Linked DNA regions of Homo sapiens: region 2 is linked to region 1. The links come from fine-mapping of genetic effects on gene expression. Tissue or cell type: tibial artery. Region 1 holds a variant in brackets; the other region holds the start of a gene. All regions are shown on one strand. Distances are from middle to middle.

Region 1 (10,692 bases):
CACCACGCCCGGCTAGTTTTTTGTATTTTTTAGTAGAGATGGGGTTTCACTGTGTTAGTCAGGATGGTCTCAATTTCCTGACCTCATGATCCGCCCACCTTGGCCCCCCAAAGTGCTGGGGTTACAGGCATGAGCCACTGCGCTTGGCTGAATTTATTTTTTGTAGAGACAGGGTTTCTCCATGTTGGTCAGGCTCGTCTCGAACCCCTGACCTCAGGTGATCCGCCTGCCTTGGCCTCCCGAAGTGCTGGGATTATAGGTATGAGCCACTGCGCTCGGACCTTCTTTTTTTTTTTTTGAAATGGAGTTTCACTCTTGTTGCCCAGGCTGAAGTGCAATGGCGTGATCTTGGCTCACCGCAACCTCTGCCTCCCAGGTTCAAGTGATTCTCCTGCCTCAGCCTCCGAGTAGCTGGGATTACAGGCATGTACCACCATGCCTGGCTAATTTTTGTATTTTTAGAAGAGATGGGGTTTCTCCATGTTGGTCAGGCTGGTCTCGAATTCCCGACCCCAGGTGATCCACCCATCTTGGCCTCCCAAACTGTTGGGATTACAGGCGTGAGCCACTGCACCCGGCCATAAGTCTTTTTCAACCAGGGCTAGATCCTCTTTCAGAGCCAGACTATTAAAATAGCCAGGAGAGTTTGGGGCGTTCTTCAATGTCATGCTTTTCCTAAAGGAATTTGGGGAGTGGACAAGGTCCTTTCCTCCTTATGATGTGTGTGTGTGTGTGTGTGTATTTTAGAGATGGGGTCTTGCCATGTTGCCCAGGCTGGACTTGAACTCCTGGGCTCAAGCGATCCTCCCGCCTCAGCCCCTTCCCCTCCCCAGTAGCTGGGACAACAGGTGTGAACCACTGTGCCTGGCTCCTCCCTGTGATATTTTAAAAGAGGGTTGGGGAACTTCGTCGTGCACCTGGATGAGAGCTGCAGGAAGGAGTTGTCTCAGATATGAAAGCTCAGAATGTAAATGACCTGCCAGGAAGCTGTTTTGACCTGAAACTGGGGCCTAATATGAGTCTCTAGCAAGACTCAATTAATGAAAGACATTTTTTAAACCATAGGGAAGTGAGGGGGAGGGTGGAGAACCCAAGGGAAAGGCGGCTAATGTAAGGGAAACTACTTCTCCTAAAAGACATTTCATATAAAACAAACCAAAACCAAAACCAAAAAAAACAAAAAACAAAAAAAGGAAAGAAAAAAAGCAAGGACTGCCAAGACTGCCTCTTTCTTATTCTTCCAAAAGCTCCAGCTCCTGAACTGTGGATTCTAACCAAGGTGGGTGGAGCACAGCTTGCACTGCAAGGGAATGAAGCCAATGCGAAGGCCCAGAGGGAAGGGAAGCGTTGTCAGAGTCTGGTGGTAAGCTGAATTCTGTGCCTGTTTAAATGGGGTTGTCCTTGTGGTTGCGGCATTTCCCTTCTCAACTTCAACAGACAATCAGTGGCATTACCCAAAAGTGGAGACGCATTGAGGACAGCACAGTTACAAGTGGGCATGAGTTTTTATTCTCAGTGCACAGCAGTATTGGTTTCTGTTCATCAGCAAAAAGCTTTATTGGCTCCAACAAATTATCCCTTTTAAAACTCCTCTTCTTCTTCTGGTCTCAGTGGAACAACACATTTGAATTTCAGATTTGCAGTTTATAGCATTTTTTTTCCCTAAGAACCATATAAATACATGCAAAACCTTGTACATAGAGCTTAAATAATATCAAAATGCAAATATAGATTGGGTGCACTGTTAAGCTGAATTGCAAATTATGGCAACACACACTGGACTGGGGTATACGTTGCTTTGATATCACCATTTGTTTGTTTATGTCATGCAGACCACAATAGTCAATCTTTTGTTTTTCTTTTTTGTACAAAAATACCAGTGCTTGTTATACTAGTTACTAAAAGAAGAAGAAACTCAAAATTCCTATCTGCGTGCTAATTTGAAAAGAACAACGTAGATAGATTTGTTGGCACATATATATGGCATATTCACATATGGCATATATACATATGGGGAGAAAACATGAACCAAAGGCCAATTCAGTTATGGGAGCTCATCTCCTTCCATCTCTCCTAATCAAGAGCAAAGGGAACAGCAGGCCTAACAGCAGGGTTGGGAAGGCAAAAGGACTGGCACTGAACTAAGTGAAAGGGCGTCTGGTCTATTCAGAGGAAGAGGCTGGAATGGCTTAACAATAGCAGGCATTTATAAGTGCCCACCCTCACCAATGCATCGGGGGTGGTCCCTAGATATGAAAGGTGAGGAAGTCTCTGCATACTGTGATGGTACCACGGGCTGCTTCAATTGTAAGGCAAAGGAAGCAGGAAAGAAAGGAAGGGATGCATTTAGAGGCTTTTCCACACAAGCGAGTGTGCCACGCCCCTCTGGGTTTTCAGCAGTGAGGTAACCATTCAGATTTAACCATGCCAACTCTCCTCTCTGAAGCTCAAGGGGAAGAAGAAACTCAAACCCTAAAGAACCCACAAGTGTCCAGAGGGATTTCTAGGTGATCTCTCTCTTAACCCCTTTAGGGACAGGAGAGTCATTCCAGAGGACAGATGATACTATGGGAAGGATCTAGCCTTAAGACTGTCACTCAGGGCTAGAACCAGCCATTGTTTTATCCATTTAGAATTCTGTCCCCATTTAATATATTGCACAAAATCTTTCTAGGGGAGGGAAGGCATCACAAATAAGATCCTTGCACAAAAACTCACTAATGGAAAACTCCAGGGGGAACAGGAAATAAAAACCATGAAAAATGCAAACCCCAAATCAGAGTATCCTTATAGACCAGGAGATATTCGTGTCTTTTATACCACTCTGCCAGCTATTCTTCAAGAAACACAAATCCAACAGAGGCCCCTGATCCTAATGACTAGTCAGGAAAGATTCTGTCTATCCATCTGCATGGTGGGGGTTGGGGGGAAGATTCATTTCCTGACAGCTGTGTCCCTTGCTGGGTGTTTTCCTGACTATCCACAGTTTACTACCCGTTTTTCTAGGTTTATTAAGAGAGGAAGCTAGGATGATACGTTCTCCTTCTCCCCATCAGACCCTTTTCAAATCCAAAGCACCATTTTGGGGAAAAGTGTTATTAACTTATGCCATATTTACCCACTGCCAGTTGGATCAGTGAAACTGAATAGAAAAAACTTATATAAAAAACATATGCACATAGACACTTAAACTTACCTAATTCCATATCAACAAAATTTATATTAAAAAAGTCTAGAACCCAACAATTTTTCTTCCCTAAGTATAAAGATGGCTGTTTGCAGAAAGAAAGTATGGTGTATTGGTTTTAAAACCAATTACAAATATACTAAGTCACCTGTCATGCCAAACAGCTGGTTATGTGCTCCCTTCCACAGGGCTACATGACGGCACTTTATTTTAAATCCTTTAAACAAAATACATATGGCTGACCCAAAAATATCAGTTTCTGATCTAAAGAAAACTATAATTTTTGCATATATTTCTATATTTTCTCTCCTATTATGGAAACTAGAACACAAGAAAAAAAACCATTGACTTTTAAAAAGTAGACACAAGCCCTCAAGGGTAACCTGTCAGGCACCATGAGAACCTTTTGTGAACAGGAATGGTAAAATAGCCTTCAAAGCTCGTTATTGGCTTGCTATTTAAAATGATCTGAGGTAATACAAGATTTGATAGAATTAAATCTTCTAAAATAGTTGATGAATATATATGTGAAACCTAACACCTTGGGTGAGCTGTTTTTTTCCCCTATGAGTATTTAAGACACAAAAAAGAATTATTGAAGCATGTACGTTTTACAAAACCAAAATCAAATTTGCTTTCCTATTTCCTACGATGATGGATTATGTAGTCATGGGGATATGTAGGGGACATTGTTTCTTTATGTTTCCTACTGTGGACAGCTCAGGTGAAAGGGGTGAGGGAGGACAGATCCAGAAGAAAAGGCTAGGTGGATCAGGTCATCTTCCTCTCACATGGGAATTTGGCCGTTCATACATCCCCTCTTCTTGACTCTCATCACTCTAGAAAGGGGGGTGGGCTTCATTTATCTAATGGGAGGTGAGAGTCAGGGACATGAACTGGCCCCTACACAGAAGTCAACACCAGCAGGGATACAAATGGAGCTCCTGCAAACGTGGCTCCACGTTGTCCCAGTAAGGAACACTTAAAAAATCTCCTAGCAAAGTCCCCAACTCCTGAGAGGCAGATGGGAAGGGGATGCTTTGGGCAGTATTCAGGGGAAAAAAAGGCACAGGGCTTTACTGGGCAGCAGCTGGAGCATGTGGCTGAAGCGGGGCTGGAGGAAGGGGGAGTGTGCCGGGTGCGGGGGGTCTTTTTCTCGTTTAAGTTGGCAAAATGTCACAGGGGCCTCCCACTTTGGATACATATTTTCAAAATCAGAATATTTGAGAAAGGCTGGGACCTTCTCAGAGACTGGAAAAGTTGTGACACGTGGCAAAAATTAGAATCAGAAACTGGAGAGAATGTCGAAGCTGGTCCCCAGGCACCTAAGCTCAAGGTTTCTGGCCTCTGCAGGAAGGTTTTCTCAGATCATGCTAGAATGGCTCTTTGGCCTCTCCCAAGGCTTCTGAACACTCATTCCCCACCAGTCAGGTCCTGCCCTGGAGAGCCTTGGCAGATGGCTTTGAAAGCAGTGGTCACCCCAAAGAGGAGCCCACAAAAGTCTGCTTTGATGGTCTGTCTTGTCCTAGATTTGGCAGCGTCTGGTCCTCAATATCCAAGCCCAGTAAGGGGGCAGGGTCATACCCAGTTCATTCTTTTGCCACCACTTTAGGAATAAGAGAAAGCTCAGGCTTTCAGGTAAAAACTGTATACCACACATATGCAACCTTCATGGGCAAGGCTGATCTCCCTGGCACTTAAGAACCACATACACTTTACAAGATGGCAATTTAAAAGCAGAAGGTAACCTGGCAACAACAGAGAAATATTCTTACCAGCACTTAATTGCTTCAAAAGGACCCTTTTAACAAAGAAACTGGTTGGATTCTGGAACTAAATCAAGGGTTCTTTTGGGCCAAAAGGGAGAAGGATCTAAGTTTACACAATTCATCCATATCCTTTCCATTTTCTTAATCATCATAAAAAAAAAAAAAAAAAAGGAAAGGAAGGGAAGACAAAAGACAAAGAACTTTGGAGAGGTTTGAATGAAAGGGCAGAAAGAGTTAGAGGCCTACAGGCCTTTAGGTGTAAGTTTTCAAAGTGGGAAAAATTGAAAAACAATCACACTACTGGCGGATTTTATACATTCCATCTCTACCGCAACATATTTCACTTGGGGATATTTGTCTCCCTCTGAACCCTCAACTTAGCTTATAAATGGCACAGACTTGTAGGACAAAATCCAGAATTCAGGAGAGGAACATCGGGGAGAATGTGGGGTGGGGTGATGCCAAGAGGATTGTCATCATTTCTTTAAAAATGACAAGTGACTACCAAGGAGTAGATTCTACCATGACCTGAATGGGGTTTGACTGGGTCCCGCTACAAACCCCAAGTCAAGCTTAAGTTGAAATCCTTGTAAGTCTGTGCTCTTGCCTCTTCATGGTCAGGTAGAGGTTCACTTCACACACACTGCTGTTAACACAGCAGCTGACGTGACAATGAAAAGTCCCATCATCACCTCATAGATGGGATAGACGAAAATGGAAATAGGTAAAATAGGGATGAGAGTCAGAGAAAGAAAATTCAAACTGATGTCTCTAGGCTCTGTAGAGAGCTGTCCGACTGGGGGAGCTGCACTTGGTTGCAATCCACCGCATTGTTGTTTGTATTGGCATATGGAGTGACCTCACCATCCAACAGGAGCACCCTAGTCCCAAACTTAGAAGCCTTGTCAGGATTTTCCTCCTCTTCCTCATCCAGGAGTGGTGTTCGTGGCAACTCCTCCTCTATGGC[G/A]AATTCAGGGTGGGTCATGAAGCTGTGGATGGACTTTTGGTTGTAGGGTTTCTGAATGCTTTCGTGGAGGGAACTATGGAACGCTTTGACCACTTTGATCTATACCAGGGGAAGGAAAAGGAGGATGAGAAAATAGAGAGGTGAGAATTGGCCGGCAGAACAAGGAGATGGTGGATTTAGGAGAGAAACAAAACCCAGACTATAAAACATGACTGCTCAGCATCAAAACCAAACACACATCAGAAGAGATCATGGGGCACTAGAAACATCACATGGCTCAACTTTCAAGCAGTGGGGTGGGCTGGGGTGAGTGACGGCAACTAGGACGTTTTGAAAGCTGCATTAAAAAAAGTAGAAAACCCAAAGCAACGTTAGCATTCCCAAACAATCTACTTTTAAAATGAAACAGAAAACAAGAAGTTTCATTAGTTCTTTTAGATGGAGGGCAAGGACATGGGAACTAGATGCAAATTCATAGCCAAACTTAAAAAGATGATTGAGATATGTGGATTTCTGTGCTGAGGCCAAACATTTTGTGAATGTGGAATGGAAAAATTATGCATTGAGGTTTAGTTATCTGTTTAAAGACCTCAAAGAGCCAGCATACACCAATCTGCACATAATACAGGTTGGGTGACGAGTGACCATGAAAACTGTGCAGCCAGGCAGACAAACCAATCTTCATTTGTGTCAGCAGCATGCAGGAACTTAAAACTCTCTAATAATAATTTGCCCTTTCAGCCAGGAAACATGCATATTTTTATATCCCACAACCACCACTGTGTCCCCTCCCCGCAAATAACACAGAACTTCACTCCTTCAGCCCCTTCCCTAGAAGCAGCAGATAAAATACAGGTGTCAAAAGATGCCTTCCTCCTGCCTATTGAGAAAAGACCTGGCTCTCATAATTCAAATGCACGTTCATGTCTCTGATACACAGCAACTGTGCCCAATCATGCTGCTTTCTCTAGCTGTTTCCAAATTGTGAAGAGGAGCATAGTCTTATGTGGAGAAGGGAATGAAAGGGACCAGGGAGAGAAACCTAATCCAGGAGGCAGTGCTACAAACAAGTGGCCTTTCTGATGGGGTGGATGAAGAGGATGAAGGAAAGGAAACCACGTGCGGTTTTACTGGGCAAAAGGAGATGCATTGCCCAGTGTCATAGTCTCTGTCTTACTGCGCAAAAAGGAAGGGATTCGGTCAGTTCAGAGTCATCAAGAAAAAACTGACAATAATTGATGCCTGTGAACAGCTTTTGCTTGTCCACAGGCACCAGCAATTTTGGCAGCTCTGCTTTTCTGAACTGCAGGTCTCTCTGAGGCGTGGCTTAGAATCAGGGATGGTAGAATTGGGGTAGGGGGAGAGGGTTGGAGCTCCGAGAAGTTGGAGAGAGGGGCCAGGGGAAAGGTAAATGGTTGTAGGACGGTTCTAGTTGTTGGAAGGTGGCTGATCCTAGTCTTGTCCAAAAAATCTTCACTCAGAAAAGAAATGGGAGTAATGTGGGGGAAACTGTTGAGGTTGGAGGGGTAGGAGTGATGAAGGTGGGGGTAGGGTACCTCTTTCATTCCTCTGCTGTTTAACCAAAAATATATTCCAGGAGAAGACACAAGAATTTGGAGACAGCAGAGGATACAGAGAGTCAGCCAAATAAACTGGTTGGATCACCTGTTCCAGTGCTTCCTACCACCATACAGAACCTTCATAAATACCACTCAAAGAAGGCTCACTATCAATACTGTTGGTCCGTTTTCTCTGGAGGAGAATGTGTCTCTGCTGGCTAAGGCTTTCTTTATCTCGTCCCACTCTACTACAGCCTGCAGACCCACCCAAGACTGAGGGTGCTCAAAGCTCAGAAGGCAAAGGACTCCTTGCCACTCAACAGTATCAGCTCAACACCTCAGCCAAGAAGAATCAGGGAGCACAGGCACACACTCACCATGCTGAACAGACAGCGAGGACCACATTTTTATTATCTGATTCCTATTTGACCATCTGATGTGCAAATTTTACCTATCATGTTGCCTTTGCTCCAGATCTAGGTGAGATCAGATGGAATGGAGGCTCCATCTGGTCTTCAGGAAGTCTCAAGTTTTCACTGATCTACATAAAATCTCAGAGCAAGGCAATTTGGATTGAGTGAGTCCAAACCCAGTGCCTTCTCCTTTGACCCTGGCACAGATACACTGGCCAAGAGATGGGTCCAAAGTCATCCCACTCCATCAAAGCCATCACTGTCAGGAGTGATAACATAGCCCACATTTTTCATATGTTTTCAAGATCTCAAAATTTCTACTGAATATTACAGGAGGGCAGGTGCCTTTATCCGCCAGTACATCATCTTCAATATCAGTGATTTTCAATTTCCTGCTTCCATTCAATTGAATACTTTGTTGGAAAAAATTACATGTGAAGTCCACTATAGAAAATAAATTTGTAACAACTGGGGTTGGAGTGAGGGTCTGGAGCCCTGTTTGTTGGCTTTTCCTCTCACCTGTTGGGGTGACCAATAATACTGTTACAGGTAAACAATGAGGAAGATAAAAGTGAATTGGGGATGGGTAGATGGAAAAAATATGGGAAATGTCTTTTGGGGAGCAAGAAACAGTCATCCAGCTAGACTGCAGGACTTCTGGAATCTAAAGGGAAACCAGCCACCTGTAAGGAAGCTCACGTGAAGAGGGGTCAGAGAGCTAGGGAGCACCAGCTGGCTTGGTGGGTGGAGAGAAGGGTGAGGGAGGAGAGGGCATGGGGCTGTGCCAGGATGCCCCAACTCCAGCACTGGCCTCAGAGAACACATGCTGATGAACAATCATGCACTATATCACCACCAATCCACCCAGGGCTGGCATCTCCCCTTCCTGGAGCATGATGCCTGGTGCATGAGCAGTGTATGGGGACAAGACAGGGCTAGTGAAGAAGGTGCAGGGAAAGCTTTGAGCACTCTCCACACAGCCAGTCAACCCTTCCCTTCCTGGTCATCATTTCTCAAAACCTTGGGGAAATGTCTCTTTTGGGGCCCTGGCCTACAGGTGGAAGTGGCTGGTTGAAGGGCAACTCTTTTCATGACTCAGGAGACTGGGTATGAGTGCTGAGGGCTACTCTCTGCAGCTCAATGAGTGGGCAGGTGAAGACTCCATTTTCTCATTCTGTAGTTTTCTGCTTTTTTTTTTTTGGGGGGGATGGAGTTTCACTCTTGTTGCCCAAGCTGGAGTGCAATGGCGTGATCTCAGCTCACTGCAACCTCCGCCTCCCGAGTTCAAGCGATTCTCCTGCCTCAGCCTCTAGAGTAGCTGGGATTACAGACGTGCGCCACCGCACTCAGCTATTTTTTTTTGTATTTTTAGTAGAAATGAGGTTTCACCATGTTGGCCAGGCTGGTCTCGAACTCCTGACCTCAAGTAATCCACCTGCCTCGGCCTCCCAAAGTGCTGGGATTACAGGCGTGAGCCACCGCGCCAGGCAGTTTTCTGCTCTTTTCAGAAACCAGAAGAAAAGGATTAGGGCCTCCCTATGCAGGGAAATCTTAGAGATCTATCTAATGAAGGTTGGACAAACAGTTGAATTCATTTGGAGATCTGGAATGGGAAAGAGGGTTTTAAAATGTATGGCTATAACTTCTAGGAGCTCCAACTAAAAAGGCACAGCTGGAGAAAGAGCAGGTGTGGCCTGTCTCTCCTCTGATCTAGTCTTTGAGGATTTGGAGCACACCCTCTACCAGCTGCTCTACAAGATCCCAGTCTTCTGCTTAGTCTTCTACTTAGTCTCCTTCCACCATCAAACCATCAGGATATCTGACACTAACCCTTCCTATCAGAAAGGGATGATTAAAACAGAACAGAAGCTAGTTAGAAGGGGATGGCAGAACTAGAAGGAAAAAAGGAATTAAGAGAGGAATATGAAAGAACTGGTGGGAGAGGTTCCTGGATACTTGCAGGGCAAGACTTAGTGAGTTCTTTCTTGCCTGTTTTTTTGACCTAAAGAAATTGTATGTATCTCTATCAAGTTCCACCCCCATTCCTCACATCAGAACACTTTGGCTAAAGAGACAAAACAAATCTAAGTCTGGTCAACCCACACAGTCCGTGATCATGTGAACCACAGACAAGGCAACTGTTCTTTCTTGAGCCCCTTTGCAGAGGTCGGGGTGGGGGGTGGTGAGGTTGGGAATGGGGGAGGAAGGAACAGACTGAACACTCAGCTATTTGAAACCCACATTATATTTAATACAGATAAACTCCTTCCCACATTATCAGCAAAGAGCTGGCTACCTTCTCTCTCCTCTCTGAGTCCCATTTGGGGAAGGGAAAATGACCAGGAATAGGAAGACATAAGCATTAGCAAGAATCCAAGAATCTACCAATGGGAACACCAGATCTTAGGTTGTGAGTTGATAATACTCCAATTGCAAGTCCGGCTGAGAAAGGGCTTCCTGAAACTTTATGTGCAAAATAAGTGCTGGCTATTGGTGAAACAATCAAACTAGAGAAAAGGAGAAGCAAAATAAAAGGCACTCCTCTTCAGAAACTCCTAAAAGTTTAGTAAATGAAGAAAAAATGTTATTTTGACTCTTTTGTATATTTCTCGTACCTTCATGTGAACTAATTGATTTTTTTTCTTCGTTTTTTTTTTTTTTTTTTTTTTTGAGATGGAGTCTGTCTCTGTCACCCAGGCTGGAGTGCAGTAGAGCATCTTGGCTCACCGCAACCTCCGCCTCCTGGGTTCCAGCGATTCTCCTGCCTCAGCATCCTGAGTAGCTGGGACTATAGGCA
Region 2 (10,063 bases), 25 kb before region 1:
ATTCTCCTGCCTCAGCCTCCAGAGTAGCTGGGATTACAGGAGCGTGCCATGAGGCCCAGCTAATTTTTGTATTTTTAATAGAGGCGGGGTTTCACCACATTGGCCAGGATGGTCTCAATCTCTTGACCTTGTCATCTGCCCGCCTTGGCCTCCCAAAGTGCTGGAATTACAGGTGTGAGCCACCGTGCCCGGCCTGTGAAACTTATTTAATCTTTAACAATCCTATCACACTTTGTGGCCAAGTAACCTGAGCTTTAGACTCAGAAAGGTAAAGTAACATGTCAGAGATCACCTAGGTAGGAAGGAGCAGAGAAGGAATATGAATCTAGGTCTGTTTGCGTCCAAAGACCATGCTCTTTCCACTCTGCCACACTGTCCTCCAAACCTGCAAAGTCAAAGTCATTTGGCCTTGCCCCTTCTTGTTCCCTACTCGTGGGCTTCCTGGCTTGCTTGGAGGAGAGGATTAGCCAACGTACAGTTAAGGAGTGGCTCTGTGACAGAGTCCAGCTTGCATGAACTTGAATAACACCCCCCACCCCCCGCCGCCCCCCCCCCCGCACCAATTTGTGGAGCTGGTCTCCAAGCAACACACTGCTGTTGTGTGAAGTTTAACCAATTCATGTTCTGTGCTACCTTGCAATTCCCTGGCAGGGCTGGCGTCACTGCTCGGTTTTGCTTGGGTGTTGAAATGCATCCAGATGATTACAACCCCAGATGGCTATGCCTAATGCAACAGGAAGCTGCCAACTGAAGTTACAGCGGGAATCAGGAACTGACGTGCTACCCCCAATTATTAGAAACCAGGGCATTTAACAGGGAAGGTTTTTGTCCCCTTGAGTTTTAGGCTTATTTATACAACTTTCTTTCTTTTCTTTTCTTTCTTTCCTTCTTTCTTTCTTTCTTTCTTTCTTTCTTTCTTTCTTTCTTTCTTTTTTTTTGAGACAGAGTCTCGCTGTGTCGCTCAGGCTGGAGTGCAGTGGCATGATCTTGGCTCACTGCAACCTCTGCCTCCCAGGTTCAAGCGATTCTCCTGCCTCAGTCTCCTGAGTAGCCGGGACTATAGACACACGCCACCACGCCCGGCTAATTTTTTTTGTATTTTTATTAGAGATGGGATTTCACCATGTTGGCCAGGCTGGTCTTGAACTCCTGGCATCAAATGATCCGCCTGCCTCAGTCTCCCAAAGTGCTGGGATTACAGGTGTGAGCCACCGCGCCCAGCCCATCCAAGTTTCTAGTGAGCATTTCTAACTAGTTGCCTAACAGACAGCTCAAACCAAAACAGAGCTCCTGTTCTCCCCACATAAACCTGCTACTCCCCAGGTGTTTCCCATAATCTAATGGCTTAGTCAAAAATCTTGGAGCCATTCTTGGAGCTCTTTTTCTTTCATGCCCCACTTCCAGTCAACCAGCAGATTCTGGCTGCATTACCCTGGGCATTTATCCCAAACCCAACCACCTCTTGCTCCTCTGTTGCCACCACTCGGGTCTAAGCTGCTGTGCATTTCACAGGAACCTTTGCAATAACTTTCCTGGATGGTCTCCTTGCTTTAACTCTTGGCCTCAACATTCGTTGTCTTCACACAAAAACCAGTGTGATAATTCTAAATGGTAAATCAGATCACATCCCTCCTCTACTCATCACTCTCCCCGGCTTCGAGTGACTTAGAATAAAGTCTATAGTCCTTCCTCAGAGAGGACTTGACGGCACGATATGATCTGGCCTCTGCTTACCTCTGACCTTATTTCCTACCACTTTCCCTCTGACTTTGACTGCCAGGATCCCTTGCCCATGCAGAGCACAGTTCTGTGTCAGACCTGCCACTCCCTCTCCCAGGAATCCTCCTCTCCCAGCTGTCTGCATGGCTGAGTCCCTCTCATTCAGGTCTCTTCTGAAACGTCAAATGTCATCTCCTCAGACACGTCTTCCATGGCCACACCCTATTACTTGCAGTCCCCTTGCTGTGCTCCACTTTTTCTTCATAGCACTGATGACTGATTGATATATCTTTTTTTTTGAGATGGAGTTTCGCTTTTGTTTCCCAGGCTGGAGCGCAATGGCATGATCTTGGCTCACCACAACCTCCCCCTCCTGGGTCCAAGTGATTCTTCTGCCTCAGCCTCCCGAGTAGCTGGGACTACAGGTACGCACCACCACGCCTGGCTAATTTTTGTATTTTTAGTAGAGATGGGGTTTCATCATATTCGTCAGGCTGGTCTCGAACTCCTGACTTTGGGTGATCTGCCCACCTTGGCCTCCCAAAGTGCTGGGATTACAGGCGTGAGCCACCTCACCCAGCCCGATTGATTGATATTATACATTCATATGCTTATCTGTTTATCATTTTTTTATTTAAAAAAAAAAAATTTTGAGACAGGGTCTCCATGTGTTGCTCAGGCTGGTTTTGAACTCCTGGGCTCAATTGATCCTCCTGCCTTGGTCTACCAAAGGCTTGGATTATAGGCATGAGCCACCACGCTCAGCTCTGTTCATTATTTGACTCTCCCACTTGTCTATAATCTTCAGGAGGTTATGGACTTGTTTATCCTGTTCACCTAGTGCCTTAAACAGTGCTTGGTACTTAGTAGGGCCCTGATAAATATTTGTTAAATGAATGAATTAATAAACAAATGAATTAATATAGAAATAGTTTTAAGTGTAGTACAGCCATTATGGAAAACACTATGGAGGTTCTTCAAAAATTAAAAATAGAACTACCAAGGCGGGGCATGGTGGCTCATGTCTGTAATCCCAGCACTTTGGGAGGCGGAGGTGGGCGGATCACCTGAGGTAAGGAGTTCGAGACCAGCCTGACCAACATGGAGAAACCCCCAACTCTACTAAAAATACAAAATTAGCCAGGCATGGTGGCTCATGCCTGTAATCCCATTTACTGGGGAGGCTGAGGCAGGAGAATCGCTTGAACCTGGGAGGTGGAGGTTGCAGTGACCCTAGATTGCAACCTTGCACTCCAGCCTGGGCAACAAGAGTGAAACTTTGTCTCAAAAAAAAAAAAAAAAAAAAAGAAGTGGAGAGTAGAATGGTGGTTACCAGGGAGGGGTTGCAGAGATGTTGGTCAAAGGGTACAAAATATCAGTTAGAGAGAAAGAAAAATTCAAGGGATCTGTTGTATAACATGATGCCTATAGTTAATAAAAATGTGTTGATGGTCCAGACCCGGTGGCTCATGCCTGTAATCCCAGCACTTTGGGAGACAGAGGTGGGCGGATCACCTAAGGTAGGGAGTTCGAGACCAGCCTGACCAACATGAAGAAACCCCATCTCTACTAAAAATACAAAAAAAAGTTAGCCGCGGGTGGTGGCACATGCCTGCAATCCCAGCTACTCAGGAGGCTGAAGCAGGAGAATAGCTTGAACCTGGGAGGTGGAGGCTGCAGTGAGCCGAGATCACGCCACTGCACTCCAGCCTGGGCGACAGAGCGAGACTCTGTCTAAAAAAATAAAAATAAAAAAAACAAACAAAACAAAACAAAAAAAGTGTTGATGACTATAGTTAATAAAAATGTGTCATATTCTTGAAAATTGCTGAGAAATTTTAAGTATTCTCACCACAAAAGAAAATTGTGAAGTAATGTGTATCTTAATTAGTTTAATGTAGCTATTGTACAATGTATACATATTTCAAAACAACAGGCTATCATGATAAATATATATAATTTTGATTTGCCAATTAGAAATAAATAAAAATAAATGAAGAAATAGTTTTGGAGAGATGCTTCAGGCTTCTGATTCATTGCTCATTGATGCTCATATCTACCAGCAAGTGACATGTGTTTGCCATGATAATAACATTTATTTCCCCAAACGACTGCAATTTTATTTTATTTTTTGAGACAGAGTTTCGCTTTTGTTGCCCAGGCTGGAGTACAATGACATGACACTGCAACCTCTGTTTCCCGGGTTCAAGTGATTCTCCTGCCTCAGCCTCCTGAGTAGCTGGGACTACAGGAGCATGCTACCACTCCCGGCTAATTTTTGTATTTTTAGTAGAAACGGGGTTTCACCATGTTGGCCAGGCTGGTCTTGGCCAGGCTGGTTCAAGAGTGGGGGTGATCCGCCCCACTCGGCCTCCCAAAGTGCTGGGGTTACAGGTGTGAGCCACCGCGCCCAGTCAGCTGCCAATGTTTTTAAAGTTTCAACTGTGGATGGATTTTTAATTTTGTTTGTATGAGATTGAAAGTAGTAGCAGTAATTCATACCCATGATTAGTTCTGTAAGATTTTACGTCCTAAGGACGTATCTTTATTACATCTATCACTACATTTTTTATTCATGACAAGTTTTTGGATCTCAAAACACATCCTTGGAAAACTCAGCCTTTTGTTTCTGTCATGGTGACACCTAGGAAAGACTGATGATAGGGTTCAGGGCCTCCGAGAGGTGAGAAATCCAACCAGTCTAAGCAACTAGCTTTAAGGGCCAGTGTTATCACAGTTTTTCCTCTACCACAATATTTTCTTTCTTTCCTCAATACCTTCCTTTCCCCCTAGCACCCCTGAGCAAATGCCTCCAAGCCTAGAGTTTGGTGGTTTAGTAGACCGAGCCTGGGTGTTGAGAGGTGGCAGCACTGCTGTGTAAGAAGCTCCTAAGGGTGGACTAGGACCTTCTGCCTAAATCAGGGCAGGGTGGAGCTCACCACCCTGAGTCACTCACCTGTCCAGGCTGCGGGGAGTCACATGCAGAGTGCTGGACTCCAAGGTCCTCCCTCTGATTGTCGAAAGGGTTGGAGTGACACCATCCATTGTATCAGGAACCTTTGAGATGCTCTCTGGCTTCAGCTTCTAAGTTTCTCTTAATCATAATCAGTTAGCCAGCATGTCTACCACTTCTCCCCACCCCCGCAACAAACTCCCTATCTCGTGTCTACCTCTGAAACGTCAGGCCAAGTTGACCCAACATACAAAAGCAACAGGTTTGGTTCTACCTGGACGTGGCTAATGCCCACTGCAGGAAGTGCGATCTCATCCGGACATGGTGCTTCCAAGTGAGGTGGCTCAGGGAGAATCTGTGGCCTCTGCCTTCACGTTTCTGGTGGAAACGTGAGGGGCACAGAGGGGGAAACTGCCAAGAGGCTCAAGAGAGGCTCCGTGAGAAGCTCGTCTTCCTTCAACACCCAAAGCAGAGTGAAAAGAGCAAACCACTTTGCCAGAATGGAAACAGAGAGTCAGTCACCGGAAACGACACCACCAATGTGCTAATGAAGCACAGGGCACAGGAAACTCTGCTCAGCTCTTAATCTGCTAGAAGAAAACATATCTTCAACCCACCGTTCCTGGGTTTGCCAGGTGCTCTGTGGTCTGTGATGAGTGTGATTAAAAATGGGGCAGGGTAGTAGAGAACTTGTGATTCTTCACCCTGAGTTTCTGAGACACTTAGAGTTGTATAAGTCTTCAGATTTACAGTATTTTCTAAGCAAGTCTAAGGAGCACTGGAGGTTGCCTTTTAGAGTGAAATGCAGATCTCCGGGACCCTCTTCTGATTCAGTGGGTGGAGGCTGCAGAGGGGGCAGGCTTTGGCTATCGATGCTTTCCAGGTGAATTTGATGGAGCTTTCAGGTGATTTTGATGGAGCTCATCTGTGTTTCATGTTTTGGGAACCTCTGCTCTGGGTACTACCTTAAGAATAGAAGTTATGCTGGGTTAGCAGGACCCCTGCTCCCCCAAGGCAACCTTCCACAGCTCCTGGCTGCTGGTGATCTCCTGTTCTCAGGGCTCTTCTGAAGATCAGTCACAGTCTTACTTGTCACACACCTGTCTCAGAAGCTGAACAAGTTCATCCTTAAGAGCTACCCAAAGTGTTTGAAGATTGTTCAAAATTTATTGCTAACTCCCCTCCCTTCTTGAGCCTACTAATCTCCGGAAACACTCTTTGCATCTTGGGAGAGTCCAAAGAGAAGGGGCCACTAAGACTGTTGTAAGGATGTGAAGAACCTCTCTGATTGCACTTTCCACAAGGAAATGGATTCCCAGATGAATGGAAGGGCAGACCAGCAGTACCCTCCTAGAACCATGCCTCCCTCCCATCTCTTCCCAGTGGACATTGAGGTCCTCAGCTTTCCTGAGGTGGCAGCCCCTGGCCTGTCTGCATCCAGACTCTCACAGAGTCCCCAGGGGCTGCAGACTGGCCATGGCTGGCTTTCCAGGGAGCTTTATCATTCCAGGTCCTGGGCCCCTTCCCTCCCAGGAGCTTCACCTGGTAGGAAGCAGAAATGGCTCAGAGGCAGCTGGTGCTGGAGCTGGAACCTGGGTCTCTGCCCACTTCTCCTTTGGATCAGGTCTGAGTAGGAACTAGGACTACTCACAAGATCCATCATGCTGGTGGCAAGGACTGGGGTCCTGGGCCATTGGAACCAATAAGGGACTGTGAGAATCAGGACCTCGGAAGGCAGTACACGGAAAGGGCACATGGAACCAAACCTCAGAACCATGACTGCTAATTAAAAAAAAAAAATTTTTTTTTTTTTTAAAGAACTTTTCCATTGCATGTGATCATTTCAGGGCCTCACTTATCTTATCTACCCAATCTGCTGCAGTTAGACCAATCTTCCCTCTGGTTGTCCAATTCTCTCCTGCCCCCACATCTCAGGGAAATCACCACCTCAGAGGCAGCTGCCCAAGTTACCTGCCTCAGACTGCAGGTGAGTGCCAGGATTCCAGGCCTTGGCTGTGCCCCTCATCCTGCTCTCCTTTCCTTCCCCATGGGGCAAAATCCAATCAAACTGACAAACTAAAACAAAAAGTAGGTAGCTGAAATGATTCATCATAATAGCGGGGAAAAAACAACAGCAACAACAAAAAACACTCGTTCCTGGGAAATGGGGTGTATTTTGTTGTTGTTGTTGTTTTTTTGAGATAGAGTTTTGCTCTTGTTGCCCAGGCTGGAGTGCAATGGCATGATCTTGGCTCACCGAAACCTCCGCCTCCCGGGTTCAAGCAATTCTCCTGTCTCAGCCTCCCGAGTAGCTGGCATTACAGGCATGCACCGCCACACCCAGCTAATTTTGTATTTTTAGTAGAGACGGGGTTTCTCCATGTTGGTCAGGCTGGTCTCCAACTACTGACCTCAGGTGATCCGCCCGCCTTGGCCTCCCAAAGTGCTGGGATTACAGCATGAGCCACCGCACCTGGCCAAGGAGTGTATGTTTTAAATCCGATTGCTCTCGTGTTGTTGATGTTGTTTTTTTCTGAGACAGGGTTTCACTCCTGTTGCCCAGGCTGAAGTGCAGTGGCATGCTCTTGCTCACTACAACCTATGCCTCCCAGGCTCAAGCCATTCTCCTGCCTCAGTCTCCCAAGTAGCTGGGACTACAGGTACACGCCACCACACATGGCTAATTTTTGTATTTTTAGTAGAAATGAGGTTTCAGCATGTTAGCCAGGCTGGTCCAAACTCCTGGGCTCAAGTGATCTGCCCACCCTGGCCTCCCAAAATTCTGCGATTATAGGTGTGAGCCACTGCACCCAGCCTGCTCTAGTGTTTTAACCACTTTTCATGATTTTTTGGGGTCGGATGTTACATATGATTGTTACCAGACCCCAACACTTACCCAGAGTTAGCCTTTGGGTTGGGGGTTTCTGCACTATAGTCCCTTCAGTGGTTGCCAGAAAGGTGTTACAGGGAAGGGGTCCTGATGCAGACCCCAAGAGAGGGTTCTTGGATCTTGCCCAAGGAAGTATTCAGGGCGAGTCCATAGAGTAAAGTGAAAGCAACTTTATTAGGAAAGTAAAGGAATAAAAGAATGGCTGCTTCACGGACAGAGCAGCCTCAAGGGCTACTGGTTGCCCATTTTTATGGTTATTTCTTGATGATATGCTAAACACGGGCTGGATTATTCATGCCTCCCCTTTTTAGACCATATAGACTAACTTCCTGTTGTTCCATGGCATTTGTAAACGGTCATGGTGCTGATGGGAGTGTGGCAGTGAGGATGACCAGAGGACATTCTCATGGCCATGTTGGTTTTGGTGGGTGTTAGCCGGCTTCTTTACTACAGCCTGTTTTATCAGCAAGGTCTTTATGTCCTATATCTTGTGCCAACCTCCTATCTCATTCTGTGACTTAGAATGCCTTAACTGTCTGGGAATGCAGCCCAATAGGTCTCAGCCTCATTTTACCCAGCCCCTATTCGAGATGGAGTTGCTCTGGTTCATACGCCTCTGACAGGATTCTAAAGTATTAAGACTGTTTTTTGGCCAGGTGCAGTGGCTCACGCCTGTAATCCCGGCAAGTTGGAAGGCCGAGGTGGCTGAATCACTTGAGGTCAGAAGTTTGAGACCAGCCTGACTAACATGGAGAAACTCCATCTCTACTAAAAATACAAAAAATTAGCCAGGCGTGGTTGTGCCTGACTGTAATCCCAGCTATTCAGGAGGCTGAAGCAGAATTGCTTGAACCCGGGAGGCAGAGGTTGCAGTGAGCCGAGGTCGCACCATTGCACTCTAGCCTGAGCAACGAGCAAAACTCCCCTCAAAAACAAACAAACAAACAAACAAACATTTATTTATTTATTTATTTTTGAGAAGGTGTCTCGCTCTTTCGCCCAGGCTGGAGTGCAGTGGCATGATCTCAGCTCACTGTAACCTCTGCCTCCTGGGTTCAAGCGATTCTTCTGCCTCAGCCTCCCGAGTAGCTGGGACTACAGGTGTGCGCCACCATGCTCGGCTAATTTTTGTATTTTTTTTTTTTTTTAGAAAAGACGGGGTTTTACCATATTGGCCAGGCTGGTCTCCAACTCCTGACCTTGTGATCCACCTGCTTTGGCCTCCCAAAGTGTTGGGATTACAGGTGTGAGCTACCAGGTCCAGCCTATTTATTTATTTTTTGAGATGGAGTCTTGCTCGTCGCTCAGGCTTGAGTGCAATGGCATGATCTCGGCTCACTGCAACCTCTGCCTCCCGGGTTCAAGTGATTATCCTGCCTCAGCCTCCTGAGTAGCTAGGATTACAAGCGCTCGCCACCACGCCCAGCTAATTTATGTGTTTTTAGTAGAGATGGGGTTTTGCCATGTTGGCCAGGCTGGTCTCGAACCCCTGACCTTGTGATCTGCCTGCCTCAGCCTCCCAACTTGCTGGGATTACAGGCATGAGCCACCACACCTGGCCTAGACTGTTATTTTTGTGTTTTTTTGTTTTTTTTTTTTTTGAGACGGAGTCTTGCTCTGTCACTCAGGCTGGAATGCAATGGCACGATCTTGACTCACTGCAACCTCCGCCTCCCAGATTCAAGTGATTCTCCTGCCTCAGCCTCCCGAGTAGCTGGGATTACAGTCATGCGCCACCACACCCGCTAATTTTGTATGTTTAGTAGAGATGGAGTTTCACCATGTTTGCCAGGCTGGTCTCAAACTCCCAACCTCAGGTGATCCGCCTGCCTCAGCCTCCCAAAGTGCTGGGATTACAGGTGTGAGCCACCGCCCCTGGCCCTAAACTGGTTTTATTTATTTATTTATTTGAGGCAGAGTCTCATTGTGTCGCCCAGGCTGGAATGCAGTGGCATGATCTAGGCTCACTGCAAACTCCACTTTCTGGATTCAAGTGATTCTCCTTCTTCAGTCTCCTAAGTAGCTGGGATTACAGGCACATGCCACCATGCCTGGCTGATTTTTGTATTTTTTGTAGAGACGGGGTTTTGCCTTGTTGGCCAGGCTAGTCTTCAACTCCTGAGCTCAAGTGGTCCAGCTGCCTAGGCTTCCCAAAGTGCTGGGATTACAGGTATGAGCCACAGCACTTGGCTTAAGATTGGTTTTAAATAGAAATAATTTATGTATCTAAGTCCACAAAGTCCCTTGGTGGGGATGGGGGAACTATGTGTTATTTTCATGATGTTGCTAACACCAGAAACTTTCCAGAAGTTCTCTTTGTGAAGGCAGAAAGCACATGTTCAAAACATCAACCTGAGTTCAAGTTCTAAATTACTACCTGGCTGACCTTAGCAGTTCATCTAATCTTTTTGGGTGTTTCCTTGGCTGTAAAATGACAATAATACTACTACTTATGTAATGTTGTGAGAATTAATTGGGCCAACAATGAAAAATGCTTGGTT

Direction of the effects. Positions count from the first base shown, and alleles are read on the strand shown. Sizes are in standard deviations (SD) of each study's normalised expression.
As copies of G replace A in region 1, the expression in tibial artery of the gene that starts at base 5,147 in region 2 goes down (moderate effect, 0.55 SD a copy in GTEx).

Evidence for each region. PIP is the estimated chance that this variant, and not a neighbour inherited with it, causes the effect.
Region 2: it holds the start of LAX1, and the variant in region 1 is fine-mapped to the expression of LAX1 in tibial artery (GTEx, PIP 0.96).

Annotation. Positions count from the first base shown.
Region 1 is chr1:203,734,876-203,745,567 of GRCh38, reverse strand. It overlaps ATP2B4 (ATPase plasma membrane Ca2+ transporting 4), which reads right to left. Exons shown (of 21, transcript NM_001684.5): 21 at 1,487-6,022. The coding sequence ends at 5,714. It overlaps LOC102723543 (a long non-coding RNA gene), which reads left to right and starts at 1,009. Exons shown (of 2, transcript XR_426890.4): 1 at 1,009-1,363; 2 at 7,521-8,374. The variant G/A (reference allele first, on the strand shown) is at 5,924.
Region 2 is chr1:203,760,267-203,770,329 of GRCh38, reverse strand. LAX1 (lymphocyte transmembrane adaptor 1) reads right to left here and starts at 5,147. Exons shown (of 5, transcript NM_017773.4): 1 at 4,676-5,147. The coding sequence starts at 4,764. RefSeq lists an enhancer at 4,905-5,264.